2 separate regions of the Homo sapiens genome follow, and region 2 is linked to region 1. A link means that fine-mapping ties the variant in region 1 to the expression of a gene that starts in the linked region. Tissue or cell type: monocytes after LPS. Region 1 holds a variant in brackets; the other region holds the start of a gene. All regions are shown on one strand. Distances are from middle to middle.

Region 1 (8,104 bases):
GGCTATTGTTAATACAGATGGGGAATTGGAGACTCCTAGACACACAGTGTCCTGGACACACAGTGGGCAACAGTTGGAGCTGGGCCAGAGCCCAGGCACCCAGAGAGACAGGAGCAATGTAGGGGCAGGGTGAGGGTGGGGAAGAGGGGTGGAAAAAGAAGAGCCTCGCCCCTTCCTGGGAGGCTGCTGGAGAGATGCCCCTCGCCTCCTGCCCACCCAGGCCTCTCCCTCAGGTTCCCTGATCGCTCTCAGTCCCCAGCAGCTCCAGACTGTCTAAGCTAAGGCTGGGCAGCTCCTCAGGCCAGGTGCAGCCTCCAGTTCTCCCATTGCCTTTGACTGTGCCTGCACCTCACTGTAGCAGAGCCCTGATTATGCACCCCTCATTCCAGACCGTTGGGGGTGGACCACCATAAACTCTCCACTGTCCAGACCCAGTCCCGAATCCAGGCTCCACCACTGACCTGTTCTGTATCTAACCTCTCTCTGAGCCTCAGTTTCCTTTAACTGCAAAGCGGGAAAACAATATTCATAGATGGCCATGAGGCTTACTAAACATACGCATGAAAAGTGGCAGCTCATGGCCCAGCGCATGGGAGATATTAACAGCATGAGTTCTCCTTCTCTTCCCTACACTTCCTTTCAAAGACCCCATGTCCCCAATTCCAGGAGAGTCTAATGACAATGGACAGAGCCTCTCCCTTCATCGCCAGGGCTGCCACCTGTCCTGGGCCTCTACATATCCTGTTGGGTACACACACCCCTACACGTGCATGCACGTGCATGCACACACTCACACACACATATTCACACGTTTTCACTGAAGGCCACTGTGCACCTCACACCTGTATAATCACACAACCTGTGCCAACTTCAGAGTTCAGCTCCTGGGCCGCCACTGCTTCGCTCTCCCCACCAGGCTCCCCGGAAAACTCTAACCTTTCAGGGAACTCACCCGACAAACAGGCAAGCAAGCCCGCACTCGGCCTGCCCCGGATGCTAGCAGCCTCTGCCATGACCTCCACAGAAGACTAGTTCTTCCCTGGGGATCGAAGAACTAGATTTCTGGAGACAGCAGAGGGTGGAAGGGGCTGCTAATGTTCTGAAATCATCCCCTGGGGATGCAGTGTCCGTGAGCTCCACCTCTTCTTGGAATAGATGTCCCTTCTCTCCTTGCCCCTTCCCTCCCCCGGCCCCTAATTCCAGCACATTCCCCACAGCCAGGCAGGCACAGCAGGCAGGACTTGCCTGAACCAATGTCCTCTAACCTGGGCTCGCTGTGGTAGAGTGGCATGGCTGGCAAGGGAACAGGGCTGAGAGGCAGGAGACCTGGGCCCAGACTGGCTCTGCCCATACTCCTCATGGATGAATCAGGGCATACAGAGGCCCCCAATCCACTTTGGGTTTCAGTTTCCCCTTGTGCCTATGGCCTGATGGGACAATGCCCTTTCAGATGCCTTCAAGAATAGAAGTTTAGGAGCCCACTGGAGCTGTGTTAAGGGGAGGTGCCAATGCAGATGCATTCTCCAGGAAATGCAAGTTATCCAGGAAACTTTGAAGGTATTTACAAATTGCTATTTTGATGATAATCTAAAAATATGAATGGCAGCATTTGTGTGTGATGTGAGCCTGCCAAGAGATATGTGTTTTGTTTTTCCATTTATGATGAAATTGGCACCAAGCAGTGTGACTTGGCAGACGTAATAGGTAAGAGGGGCCTCTGTGACATTTCAAGGGGACATTGTGGCCTGCACGTCCTCTGCAAAGGGGTCTGAACACAGACACCACTGCCCAGTGTGGGAGAAGCAGCCTTCTGCCCACTTGCCACCGGGACCCTGCTCTGAACCAGGCTCACAGGGTTTGAACCGAGATATAATTCACATGCCATACAACTCACTCGAATAAGGTGTACAATTCAGTGAAAAAAAAATTTTTTTTGAGACGCTCCTGCCTCAGTCCCCCAACTAGCTTAGGACTACAGGCATGCACCACCACGCCTAGCTGATTGTTTATTTTTTATTTTTGTAGAGATGGGATTTCACCATGTTCCCCAGGCTGATCTCAAACTTCTGAGCTCAAGCGATCCACCCACCTTGGCCTCCCAAAGTGTTGGGATTACAGGCGTGAGCCGCTGCGCCTGCCCTGATTTTTAAGTAGATTCAGCCATTGCCACTGTCTAATTCCAGAACATTTTCATCGCCCCAAAAAGAAACCTGATACCCATTAGCCGTCATGCCTCTTTCCTTCCCCAGCCCCTGGCAGCCACGGATCTATTCTCTCTCTGTCTGTGGATTTGCCTCTCTGGACATGTCCATTTTTTGACAGCCAATTTAGTTTCAGCAAAAACGAAACAAAACATCACTCATATTATATTAATGGCCTTAATTTAAATTTATTAACTTATTGTGGTATTCTCATTTTTAATCGAGCCTAGCTTCATAGTTAGATAACTGTTACAAGCACAAGGGTGTCACCTCATTTAGTGGCTTGGTGTTTAAGTATGATTATAATGAGAATAATGTAAGGGCCTGTGTGGTAGACTGCAGAATGCCTCTACATTCCTCCTATTCCTCTATGCATGCTGCTTTGCACAGTAACTTCACCACTTCTACCATCAAGAGCTAGTCTATGTTTCTACCCCTTAAATCTGGGCTTGTCCATGTGATTTGGACTAATGGGACGCTAGAAAACATGACACAAGCCATTCCTGAGGACTATGTGACAGATATAATGTGAATAACACTGGGTTAGCCTGTTGAGGACACAGCCCTGCCACCTCCATGACCCCAGCTGACAGCCAGTACCAACCACCAGACATGTGAGCGAGGCCATCCTAGACCAACCAGCTCCCAGAGACCTACCAGCTGAGGGCATCTGCATGACTTGGTCCAAGAAGACAAGTAGAAGAACCACCCCACAGAGCCCAGCCCAAACTGATGACCCATAGGACCGTGAGCTAAGAATTATTCTTGTTTGAAGCCACTAAGTTTTGGAGTGGTGTGTTAGGCAGCAAAAGCTGACTGATACACTCTGTGAACATGGCTTTCCTTTAACAGCCATCTATGTGCACAAGAAATTATTAACAGTAGTTGCCCTTAGGGAAGAAAACTGCCCCCAGGGTACAGGGGTAGAAAGGGGACTCTTTACTAGGTCCCCTTTGAGACCTTCTGAAATGTAAACCATGGAATGGGTTACCCATGCAGCATAAATTTAAAATAAAATGAAAAGGGGGTCTCTGCCCATTACTCCAGTTAGTACAATTCCACTTGTACTAGAATCTTGTCCTCTGGTCTCCCAGCTCCCCCAAGTCAGAGGGCAGGGCCTGGGGCCCTGCTGTCCCCTCCCAGCACCCCAGCACTCACCAATGCGGTGGGGGGACTTCTCCAGTGCCTCAATCTGGATGTGCCTGGCACCTGCTGGGATCTGCACCAGCTTGAGAGCTCCTGCCACACACAGGGATCCAGAAGTCGTGAGCATCCTAAGCTGGTGGTCCCACTGCCCAGCGTCCCCCACTCCCTCACTGGGCACCCAGGAACATCTCATTTGATCACAGAACCTCTCTGAATCTCTGTATCCTCATTTGTAAACTGAGGATGAGACCTTCTCCATGAGGGTGCTGGGAGGATCGAATGAGACATGTCCTGTAAACTCTAAGGGCCTCCGTGTGTGTGAGAGCTGCTATTACTTCCCTCTTTCCTGACCCTCTTCCTCTCCGTCTCACTTCTGCCCTTCCCCCCGTCCCTTTTTGCTCCTCTGACTCTCTCTCCCTGCTTCTTCTCACACCTTAAGCTACTTGCTACTGATGGGATTTAAATGATAAAGGCCATGAAGACTCCACATGACTGTCCTGAGCCGCCCTGGCCCTCCCGACCCAAGGCCTGGACTTTCTCAGAGCCACCAACCTTGTCCCCAACAATCAAAGGTGAGACAAAGTGTAACATCTCCCAAGGGAAAATAGGCCCCATTTATACTAAAGTGTGAAGGACTGATATCTGGTTCTTTTCCACAGCAAGTCTGGTCAGATTGGAGGTAGAGAGGAAAGTCAAGGAACTCAAAGATACCAGGAATTCAAAGCAGAAAGTGCCACAGGTTTAAAAAAAAATAAGGAAGGAGAGAGGAAAAGAAAATTATCAGTCCAGTCTTGGCTACACCTTTAGATCTGTCTGATGCCTCCCACCCACCAATAGTCCCAAGGTCCAAGGGATGGCCGAGCTCCCATCACAAAACTTTACCTAGCGGGAAAATGTCTCTTGGAGCTCCTGGGCCCCAAACTCAGGGAGGAGCTTGCCTGAAAGGTGAGGTGACTGGCTGCAGCACCTGGCTCACCAGCCTGGGCAGCCCAGGAAGGCCTGGAGATGGGCCCCAGGGCCCCTTCTCCCCACCCCAGACTGTGGCACAGTTCAAGGAGGGAGGGCCCCCTGAGGGACGGCAAGAACTCCAGTCAGCCCTCGTCATCCCCCCAGCCCCAGCCCGGCTCACCTGCCTGCTTGGAGGCCTTGCCCAGCGTCCCCTTCACAGTCCTGCAGTGGGAGTTGTCACCCCCGCAGACTCCACACTTGTCATCCGCCTTCATGGACCCCACCTCCTTGTCACAGCCGACAGGCTGAGGCCAGAGGTGAGGTCAGTGGGAGGAGGCTCCCCTGCCCCCACCGCCACCCCGGGGCTCCCATTCCCATCCCCAGGCCCTGGTCAGGAGAAGACCTCTGGCCTGGGAGATGTCCCTGGACAGGATTCTGGCACGAATTCACCGTGGGACCTGGGTGAGGTCTTACACCCGGCGTGATGAGGATTCTTGCCATCTCCTCTCCCCTCCAATGGGGCTGAGCAATAATTAGCCCCTTCCAGCACCCCAGGGCTATGCTGAGGACCAACAGGGTGTTGC[G/A]AGTGGGCCGGTGAGGCAATGCTCATCTTCCCAGGCAGGAGGGGCTACAGTGCAGCCCTCCAGTCTCCCTGTGCCGGTAGTCGGGGTGGCTGGGGGTGCACCCACCACACACTCGCCACGCGCACAGACGCTGTATGGGTCCCGGTAGCTGCAGCGTGTCCCATCGTGAACCACCTGGTTCATGAACACCACGTCCCCCGTGTCCGCCGACTGGCAGATCAGCTCACACTTCTGGGCGTCTGTAGGGAGAGGGACTATGCTGAGTCCCCAGCTGGGCTCAGAGAAAGTGGCCCAGGACAGATCAGTATGTGGTCCAGCCAGAAAGCTCCGGGGCCAGCTCTGGACAGTTGGGGGAGCACTGGGTGTGGCACGGGGGCTGAAAATCCCTGCTGTGTCACTTATTAGCCATGTGACCTTGGGTAAATGCTCTGACCTCTCCCAGCCTTTGTTCCCTATTTTTATTATCCCTAATCAGTAAAATGCCACATCGGCTTATTGAGAAAAATCAAGTGATAAAGTAATAATAAGCCAATGCTTAGTGAATGCTTACTATGTACTAGATATTTCTAAAACCTTCACATGCCCTTAAAATACAGCTTTAATGGCTTTTCATGAATTAACTCATTTAACCCTCTCAACACCTCAATGAGGTAGGTGCTAGCATTACAGAGGAGGAAATTGAGGACCAGAGAGGTTAAGGAACTTGCTCAAGTCCACACAACCACACGATAAGTGGTTCAGCCTGGATTCTAACCTTAGCAGTCTTGCCTGAGTCCTGCTCTGACCCCTACAAAACTTCACTGTGCACATGTATGACATGCGTCTTAACATGTTTGTAAACATTAGAAGGCTGCGTGAAAAAAAGGCAGAAAAGTGGTCTGTATCTGGGTTTGCAAAATGGAGCAACAGTCAGGGAGAAAGAGAGTCCTTTCTGGTCCTAACAATTAAATGTTTCCTTCTTTATGTGGGCTATAGATATCCTAAAAAGGAGGTTCCAGAGCATATATAAACACTTACTGTGCTTCTTAGAAAAAAGGAAGTTGGGGGCTTAGCTAACTTCCTGGAATTCGTCTAACAGTCCTGGGAAAAACCCAAAGTCCAGCTGCCCCACGGGCCTCCCAGCCCCTCCTCTCCCCAACGCTGTGGCTGCTGGTTTGGTTTCTGAATGGATCTGGAAGGCTTTCAAACCAAGATTCCCTCAGCCAATTACTAAGGAAACTCTTGGGCTCTGCTCTGGTCCCTGGGCTCCAGCACAGCTGGTAACTCCTTGTCTCCAGCATGAAGGACTCAAGTCTGGAGCCACAACCTCCAAGACCACCTTGGATTTCATCCACAGGAACCAGATTCCTGTAGGGACCTGGGTCTGGGGGAGCTCCAACCCAGGACAGGCAGGATCCTGACCCAGGCAGGCAGCTCTCTAGGCAGCAACGGAAGCCACAACCTCCAAGACCACCTTGGATTTCATCCACAGGAACCAGATTCCTGTAGGGACCTGGGTCTGGGGGAGCTCCAACCCAGGACAGGCAGGATCCTGACCCAGGCAGGCAGCTCTCTGGGCAGCAACGGAAGCTCTCTGGGCAGCAACAGTGCGAAGGGAGTGGTGAGCTCCCCAGAGTAGGAGGAATCCAAGCAGAGAGAAGACACCCCCTGCAAGGATGCTCTGGAAGAATCTGGCAATGACAGGCCTCTGAGGTCCCTTCCAACCTGAAGAGTCTGTCATTCTAGACCAGAGCTGAAGAGCTGACAGTTCTGGGGTGGAGCCCAGGCTCCAGGGAGGAAAGCCCGTCCTGATGGGAGCTGTCTGGGCCAAGAGTTGTGTGATGGAGAATGAGCATCTGTCCATGGAGGACCCATGGAGAGGCTGGCAGGGGAAAGCTGGAATCAGAGGATCATTGAGGGCTCTTCCAGCCGAGGCTCTGACTTGCCACGAATCCCAACCCTTCACTGGATGCTCTGCCGCTATGGAGCCATCACTGGAAACACTCAAAAATAGATGGGAACTGGCACCACTATGGTCCCCAAATTCAGACTCTTTACAGGAGTCTAGAAGTCCTGTGTATGTCCCAGGGCAGCCTAGAGAGTCGTTATGAAGATCCCACCAGATCCTATCTGCGTGCCTTCCAAAATCATCTCATCGACTCTGCTGAAACCACAACCCAATCAGTAAAACCTAAAAACACAGCGTGTAATAGGACTGAGCTCCTCAGGACACTGGTCATGCAACGGGAAGGGCGCCTGCACCTATATAATTCTTCTCCCTGCAGGTAGGGACAGAAGACGAAAGGCAGGCAACCCTAACAGCCAACACTGCTGCCGGCCTTGGCAACACCTGTGTGTGAAGTGTCCCTTCCTCAAGACACTTTCCTTGCATCTGCCAGAAAACTGTCATCATAAGTACACAAATCAGGGATGGCCTTGATGGGGATGATGACCCCAGAAGTATACCAAGAACAGGCCTACAAAAGGGTATATGGTGAGCCCGCTGACTTCAGTGTCCCTTTTGGCACCCCCACTGTCCCTCCACCTTCACTGGTGTATGTAGGGGTAGGAGGCCCTGCCTGGGCACACACAGCCCCCGCAGATGCCTAAGGACATGGAGTGGGAGGGGGGTGGGGCCCACTCACCATCGTCAGGCTCGTAGGGCACCCAGCTGTGCTTGGCATTCTGGTGCACATAGTAGGAGTTGCGCTTGGCACACTGCTGGGCCCGGAAGTCCTCGTAGGTCCCAGGGCACTCCTCGCTGTTGCAGACCTGGTACTCGAACATGGGCCCTAAGCACAGGCGGCCTCCATAGGCTGGGCTGGGACAGACACAGAGAAATGGATGACCTTGCTGGCTGGGAAGGCTGGGGAGGGCCAGGTTTCCCACACAGCCACCAGGAGCAGCTCAGCCATTCATAATAGCATGACAAGGGCCTCCACTGACATAAACCAGAGAATGGCTCCCAGGGTGGGGGCTGTGGAGCTCAGCTGAAGAGCTATCCAGATCCTTCTTCCTCCCTGACTGCTTTACCCTTCAGACATACACCACCTATTCCACGGTGAGTGTGACGGACAGATGTACAGACTGACACAGGGACTGACTAACCCTCTCCAGCTGGACTGGAAGAGAAATCCATCTTACTCATCTTTGTGGGTGCCTTCAACTGTTTTGCAGGCCCTGGCATAGAGCAGGCCCCCATAAACGACTCAGCCACTCCCATTTGCATCAACTTCCACTTAATAT
Region 2 (8,104 bases), 72 kb after region 1:
CTCAGCCCAGACACCTGACAAGGCCTTAGGCTCCCCCAGCTGCCCTGACAATCTGCTTTCTCGAAGTCCGCTCTCAGGAACTCTTGAATCAGTTCACCTGCAGAGTTTGGTAATGATCAGATCCTGGTCCCTCCCCTGAGAGGCAGATTCTGCGCACCTGACAAGGTGCTCAGGTGATTCTAGTGCATGCTCAACTATGAGAACCAACTACCATGTAGATAAGCCCTCTCCATGAGGGCCCTACCACCTTCAATGGGATGAAAATTTATTCTGGGGAAGGCAAAAATATTACACCTTTGAATATATAAAACACAGATGGATATTCAGTGTATAAACAGATATTCAGTATATCTGTGGTATTAAAATTGCATGAGGAAAGCCAGGCACAGTGACAAGCACCTATAGCCCCAGCTCCTGGGATGCGGAGGCAGAAGGATGGCTGGAGGCCAGGAGTTCGAGGCTGCAGTGCCCTGTGTTTGTGCCTGTGAATAGCCACTGCACTCCAGCCTGGGCAACATAGTGAAAATCCACCTCTAAAAAAAAAAAAAAACCTCATCGTGGGGTAGACTGATGATTGGGAGGAAATGTCTAAAACATTTAGGGGTACATCATGATAAAAGGTGGAAAGCACTGGCCTAGACAGAGGCAGCCACGAAATCAGCAGATAAGACATCTCCTACACATGAGACAATGGTGACAAATGCTCCCCACCCTGCCAGTGAGGAAGGAACCCACAACCCCTCCCCATCTCAAATTTTCTCGCTCTCAAAGCTGAAGGGCAGAGGAGCAAGCGGGCCCCTTCTTGAGACCCATCAGCTCACATCTGATGTCTCTGGGGCAGGGAAGAGCTGCCCAACAGGACCTTGAGGCTGCTGTGCCAGCTCACAAGGGCCTGCACACTGAGGAGGAGCAGCGAGGGGAATGAGAGCCAACCCCAGGTGGGGGCGAGAAAGACAGCCCACCCCATGGCTTTCTGGTTTGCAATGTGGAGCCAACTAGCAGAGGCGCTCCCAGACTCTGGGAAGCATTGCGGAAGCAGTGGGGGTCCTAGGAAAGGGACACACAGAGCAGCCAGGAAAGAGCAGGCTGGCTCTGGGAGGAGAGACAGGGAGGAGAAGAGGAAGGACACGACGTCGCAATGTTACAAGACATAATAGCAGCCGCTAACTGTGCCCACGCCACGAGCCAGGCAGGGACAGCCCCCAGTGCACTGCCCAGTTAGGCAGGCCATATCATTAACACTCGCGGGTCAGCTCCAGGAGAGCAGAAGCCACGTCTGTCTCAGGCACCACTGTACCCCCAGCATCTAGAACAGTAAATATGTGCAAAATAAATAAGGGAAAGAACCACAGAGAGGTTAACTCATCCAAATCCTCACAGCTAGGCAGTGGCTCAGCCACACTTCCAACCCCAGTGTCTCTCTGCACTCAGAAACACCAGCCAAACAGCTTGTGATCCAGCTGGGTCCATGGAAGGCGAGGGGTGAACATCATCCCAACTTGGCCACTTCACACCTGGCAGCGCATGAACCTAGTGGCCCGCGGGGGCAGGCGGCACTCCCTCTGGAAGGCAGCACCACCCCTGCCTTGGCCCAGACTGCAAAACATGCCCATAGCAATCTCAAAACCATGTGAGCAGGGCATGGGAGGGGGAGGATGCAGCTTAATGAAAGTCTCATCCCTTACCAATCCGTCACAGTTGCTGATGGCAACAGCTGCCCCAGGCATTCCAGTGACACCTCCAGTGTACACACACTCCTGCCGTAAGGGCTGCCGGAACAGCTCCCGAAAATCCTCCTGCCACTCCACTGAGGATCCTGGCACTACCAACCTCCGATTGGGCCGCAGGCGCAAGTGCAGTTCCTTCCCGAAAACAGTGACATTGAAGTAGAGGGAGTGGCGCCCCACCCTGCCAGGCCACAGGGTCCCTCCTGGGTGCAGAGGGCTGCGAGCCACCCGGAGGTGACTGGAGTGTCGTGGTAGTGTGGGTGGCGTGTCCACTACCATGCTCCCTGCAGAGGCTGCTGCTGGGCCAGACACCACGTGGGAGAGGAAGCGTCCCCGAAAGTCTGTGCTGCAGGGCACTGTCACACCATAGTCACTGAGCTTTCCAGAGAGGTGCAGCTCTGTTGGAGGTAAACAAAGAGTCACTTCAATGCAGTCGGTTCAGAGGTAAGGGGAAGTCAGAAATCCCACGCGGGCAGGGAGGGATAGGAACTCTCAGTGTCACCCTTAGGTGGGCCCCTTAGCCTGAGTTCACCCATTTTCCATCCATTGCTTCCTGAGCTCCAGGATTCCTACACTTGGATGAAGGGTGTTCGGGTACCTTGTGGCACTCCCTGTAGCCCCCAGGTCCTTTTTAAACTTAGCAGAAGAAAGCAAATGATACCAGACAGAGCCCGGTCACTAGCAACAAGACTTCCGACCTTGGGCTCTGCCCAGAAAAGGACTAAAATTCCCCAAAAGCCAACAGGGCAAATAAAGGGAAGGGCAGATCTGCCCAAACTCCCCAGTGTGCTGAAGTCACCAGCCCAGGCTGGGGTAGTGCCCTCCTCCCCAAACTTCCAAGAACGCAGCTGGCAAAACAAACACACCTAGAAACCCAGGGGACCATGGGCACGTGTCAAGGAGAAGGTGGGGCTGCAGAGGGGAGCGGTTCTCTATTTTTCCAAGGTTAGAAAGAAAACTTTTTACAGGAGGACAGTGGCCGCTGAGATCTCTGTATGGCCGAGCCCCAAGCTGGATAAATATAGATCTTCAAAAATAAAAGGATATACAGGGGGTGACCTGCCCACTTGGGCTGAATTAACTGTGAGGTCATGGCCCCATGCTCCAGGCCACATGCCAGCAGGCCCATCCTCACGCAGCTCTCCTTGAGCCCAGCCAGGCTGGGCAGGAATGACAGCTCCCTGGCTTCCAGGCCTGGTGATTCATGAATGCGAGTTTGGGAGGAATTTTCATTTCCACACAGCTCTACCTCTCGTCTCCCCAGTTCACGTCACTGATGAAACATAGAAAGTGGTGTTTCCTGAAAATCCCCCATGCCCACAGCTCTAGTTTCATCCCCATTATAGCAGAGGACCCCTAAGACTGCTGCAAGAGGGGACCCACTCTGGCACATGAACAAGGCTCACAAACAAGGAGGGACCCTGCCTGGAAATGACCGGTGACTCCTCCCCATGTTCAGAGCCACCAGGAGGGTACCCCATGCTGCAGGGCGGGAGTGGAGTGTATCTGGTCTGTATGCAAGAGACCTGTGTCCACAGCGTTTGACAGTGCTACGTTGGGGGCAGTGGAAGGATGTGTGTTTCTGTGCAGGAGCGTGAGTGCCCCGCATGCTCTGCTGTAGGAGGCAATCACCTGTTAGCCTTATGCTGGGTATGTAACAGCCACACACAGACACACACACACACACACCCCTTGCACCCATGCTCACACAAGTTGGAGACAGAAAAGACATTGAAAGAGAAAGACACACAGGACAGAGAAACAGATTGGGGAAGAGGGGAAAGAAGAAACACAGAGAGACAAAGAGACAGATGCGCTGCTCCCGAGAAGAGACTCGATGCTCCCAAATTCTCTCCTGGGGTCTCTGTCTACTTCTAGTACCAGAAAGGGAGAGAAATCACGGGACAGTGCCGTGGCACAGTGGAAGAAAAGACAGCAAATCAGCCCAGAGTGTGCATACTGCCTCCCACCCGCGGGAACCCTGCCCGGGTGGCTGGGGCAACCTTGGGCCACCCTGACCGCGTGCACCCCGGACCCCACGGGCCCCCGCGCGCCCAACCCGCACGCACCTGGGGTCCGGCTGCCCGCGGCGGCGCAGAGCGCACAGTGCAAAGGCAGCAGGTAGGACAGCAGCGCGCGGAGTGGAGCCATGTGGCCGCGCTGGGACGCGGGCTGGGCAAGCGCCCGATCCCCAAGTCCCAGGCTGAGGGCGGCGAGGCTAGGGTGCGCCCCGGGCTGTCGGAGCACCGGCTGGCTGCCGCCGCTGCCGCCTCAGCCGCCTCCCCGCCTAGCTGCTTCCCTCCCGCCTGCTCCGGGTCCCCTGCGCGGCGCCGCCGCCTGGACCGCTGGCTCCGGGCGCGCGAGGCTGCCGGCTGGAGAGCGGGGCCACTGACGCGCCAGCGCACCCGGTGCCAACTGCCGGCTGGTCGGTCAGCCCGCCCGCGCAGTGACGCTCCGGGACTCCGCGGGAGCCGGGCGACGGGGCGGCGGGACGGGCCGGGGGTGGGCACACTGGGCGGGGCGGGGCCGGGCGCGGGTCGGAGCTGGGGCGCCGGGCGCCCGGGGGCGGGGCGCGCGGCTGGGGAGTGCAGCTGCCTGCGGCCGGGGATCGGAAGTGCCACGCGGAGACAGAGCAGGGGTTCCTGGCGCACGGACCGATTGTCCCCTCAGACGCCTGGGATCCCCGGAGTGGTGGCCCAAAGCCGCTTTCTATGGCTGCTCCGCCCCCTTTCTTGGCCGCAGGGCCTGCTCTCTGTTTCTGTTCCAGAGCCAGGAGCCCAAGGGGTGTCCGGCTGCATTTGGGAGTGTGGTGGACAGTGAACCTCCCGGTAGAGGGAGACTCCCTCTTTCTTTCACTATGGTCTTGATGCCCTCACTAACCATCGACCCCTTGGATCTACCCATTTTCCAGACTCCAGCCCAGGGTGCACGACTGACCTGTGTCCTAGCCAAGAGCAGGGCTGAGCCGGTGAGGAGAGAGCCCTGGCTTCAGAGTCAGACAGCCCTGATTGAAATCCTAGCTCTGAGCCTCAGTTGTCTTATCTGTGAAATGGGTGTTAACTACAGCACATAATAGATGCTCAATAAGTGATAACTGCCCTCCACTTCCATCCCTGACACCAGTAGCAACTGTGGCATCCCAAGGTGGAAAGAACCAAGAGTCTGAGAGATGAGCACTTGATGCTAGTCTTGCAATGGTGTTGAGACCAGGTCAGGAGTCAGTACAAACAACCCAACAGAAGATCCATGCTCTTGCTTTACTCTGTAAATATGTAACTAATAACTTGCAAATAAACTATATTTCAAGCAATCCAGGGGTGGGAGTTGTGGAAAGGAGATTTTTTTGTAATAACCATGGAATAAAGAATCTTGGAAATGATGCCAAGGTTTTGGAGGACCAGTGCATTTAAGAAGCAGGTTCAGAAAGCTAAAGTATATTATATTCCAAGCATTCCAAGCTACATCAGAGCATCCAGTTATTTGGAAATGCCACAACCAAATTGATCTATATTAAATTCAGGAAGAATAGAGTTCCTCTTTCTCCTCTTTCTGGTCTTTTAAGATGTGTGTTGGCTGCGTGCAGTGGCTCACGCCTATAGTCCCAACACTTTGGGAGGCTGAGGCGGAAGGGTTGCTTTAGCCTGAGAGGCTGAAGCTGCAGTGAGCTGAGCTTCAGCTCACACCACTGTACCCAGCCTGGGTGACAGAGCAATACCCTGTCTCAAAAAAAAAAAAAAATGATGTGCAAAGTCAAGGTCCAGACAGGATTCTGTGTGTGAGGGATGACAGAGCAAGAAAGTTAGAGGGTGTGTGTGTGTGTGTGTGTGTGTGTGTGTGTGTGTGTGAGAGAGAGAGAGAGAGAGAGAGGAAAGAGAGAGAGAGATAGGAAAGAGAGAGAGAGAAAGAGAGAGAGAGAGAAAGAGAGAGAGAGAGAGAAGGCTGGGAGATGACCAGGCTGGAGCTTCACAGCTCTGGCCCTCTGCAAACCCAAGCCCACCAAATGATCTCTGGATAAAATGGCTTCCCTTCTCAGGGTCTCAGTTTTCCAAGCTGCAGAGTGGGAACCCTGCGGGACAGAAGGAAAAAGTCATGGCGTAAGGATTGCCCCTTTTCTGCTGTGGGGCCATCTCAGAAAGACTCCCCTAGAAAACTCAGGGGCCCCAGCTCCATTCCACCCCCTTGTTCCTGCCTCAAGGAAAGCAAGTCAAGAGGAGCAGGTCACAGCTGGGGCCCCAGCAGCCTGCTTCGCTGGAGTGGGCTGCGGCCTTCCCTGGAGCCAGCCTTGGCAAGCAGAGAGCAAAACCTCTCCCCGTTTCTTTACCCCCGCCCCCTTCCCTGGGGCTACAATGATTGCTTTTATCGGCAAGTATTGTGTGTCCAAGCTCTCTTCCATGGAGGAAGGCTTTGTTAGGAAAAGGGGACATGGGGGCCTAGCTCAGAGTCTGGGCCAGAAGGTGGGGAGAGGGCAAGGTGGCCCCAGATTTGGAGGTGAATGGGGCCAAAGGAAGAAATCCCCAGGTGTAAGCTGGGGACCCTCCTAGGAAGTCAAGGTCTGGGTTTCCCAGTGTCTTCCTTGAGTCTTCGCGCAGGAGAGAATGTCTTAGGTGTTTCTCCCAACACCCAACACAACAGTTTCAGTCTAAGGCCCTGGGGGAGAGGGATGCAGAAAGTCCGTGTTGGCTGCATGAAGCCAGCAAGCAATTGAGAAACCTGACATGGGCAAGAGAAAGTCTGAAAACCAGGTAAGGAAAGGGTAGAGAAATGTGCTCTAAATGAACATGCAAGGTCGCCAGGGGGGACCCCAGGGACTCTGGGGACTCTGGGAAGGAGAAGCTTAGAGGGAGATTTCACTGCCGTGGATCCAAGCTGAGGCTTCCACAGGGGAGACAGAGAGGAAGCAGTGTTCCTGGTTGGGAATGGCACGAGCATGGGCAGGAGGGGGCGGCCTGCCATGAGCCTCCCAGGCAGGAGGAGAAAAGGCTGGACTAGCTAGAGCCCATGGAAGGCTCCTGTGACAGGTAGGCCAGAAAGACAAAGTGGAGGTGTCTATCCCCAAAAGGTGACTGTGGCAAGAGTTTGAAACAGATGTAATGAGTGGGCTGGGGCTTGGGCAACGGCCCAGGATTTGACCCTGAGGAGCAAGGTGGTCCCAGCCTCCACCCACGTTCCTTTGAGCATAAACAAAAATGCAGAGATTTGGAGATAGAGGGGTTGAGAGGCAATCTCCAGTCCTGTGCCCCACTCCATTTTATAGTTAGGTAAACTGAGGTCTGGAGAGGAAAGCAGACTTGCCTCTGGTCACACAGCTAGTTTAGAGGAGGGCCAGTTCCCCTGGCTTCAGAAAAGCACAACCTCTGCTGAGCGCCAGCTCTCTTCCCCTCTTGCTCCATCTTCCAAGATAAAGATGAGGAGGTTCAAGGTTGAGACAAAATATCCCCACCCCAGCAGGAGTCCCAGATGCCCCCACAAGGAAGTAAGAGTGTCAGCTTGTGATAGGTCTCTGCAGCAAGAGGCCAACAGCTCCACGAGAGTGACCCAGAGGCAGGGGGTCCAGCAGGCAGCTATCATTTGTTGAGAACCAGCTGCTGTGCTAAGTGTTTACCTGTTTTATCCACACCTGGAGGAGATGAGTACTCTGAAACACAGGAAGAGGGTCCTTGTCTTCCAACCCATGGTGTGACAAGTGACCAGTAGGGCTCTGAAATGCTCTGGAGAAGAGGAGTTCCACCCTAGCTCACTGAAAGCCATCACCATCCACCCTGGATAGCCAGTTAGGAAGTCAGACAGCTGGACCACCCTAGTCACCTCTCTCACCCACCACATCAATCCCCTCCAAGTCCTGTGGAGTTGACTCCAAAGGATATTCCAAATACAGTAACTTCTTTCCATTTCAAATGCAACCCCATCTCCCAGCAGGCCACCAGCAGCCCTCTGTGGACACTGCTGTAGGTTTGTCCTAACAGATAACCCCACTCTTCTCCGGGCCCCGGAATCTCTCCTCCAACTACACCCAGAGATGTTTGAGACATCACATGGCCCTCTCTGCTATTAAACCTCCAAAGGCTCTGTTCCTCTTGGAACAAAGATCAGACTCCCTGTGCCCACCTTCCTGCCTCTGTTACGGACAAAGCTGGTCCTCTCAAAAAAATGAGGTATTATTCTCCGTTTGGTGTCACAAAGTCAGTACGCAAAACTGAGAGTGAGCATCAAGCAGTGCAGGCTTTATTTAATGGCCATGGAATTGAGAAGTGGGAGCTTGGCTCACGAATCAACTGTCAGCAGGTTCCATGATGCCCCACAAGCCGCAAAACCAGCAAGTTTTTATTAGTGATTTTCAAAAAGGGAGGGAGTGTATGAATAGGGTGTGAGTCACAGAG

The links. PIP is the estimated chance that this variant, and not a neighbour inherited with it, causes the effect.
Region 2: ADAMTS14 starts here. The variant in region 1 is fine-mapped to the expression of ADAMTS14 in monocytes after LPS (Quach 2016, PIP 0.95).

Annotation. Positions count from the first base shown.
Region 1 is chr10:70,740,562-70,748,665 of GRCh38, reverse strand. It overlaps ADAMTS14 (ADAM metallopeptidase with thrombospondin type 1 motif 14), which reads right to left. Exons shown (of 22, transcript NM_080722.4): 12 at 7,504-7,679; 13 at 4,985-5,118; 14 at 4,477-4,600; 15 at 3,360-3,440. Among named protein-coding and RNA genes, the nearest start is that of TBATA, 41 kb to the left of the region's middle. RefSeq lists enhancers at 3,095-3,264, 4,796-5,599, 5,839-6,133. The variant G/A (reference allele first, on the strand shown) is at 4,880.
Region 2 is chr10:70,668,577-70,676,680 of GRCh38, reverse strand. It overlaps ADAMTS14 (ADAM metallopeptidase with thrombospondin type 1 motif 14), which reads right to left and starts at 4,175. Exons shown (of 22, transcript NM_080722.4): 1 at 3,797-4,175; 2 at 1,686-2,125. The coding sequence starts at 3,878. RefSeq lists a silencer at 5,294-5,588.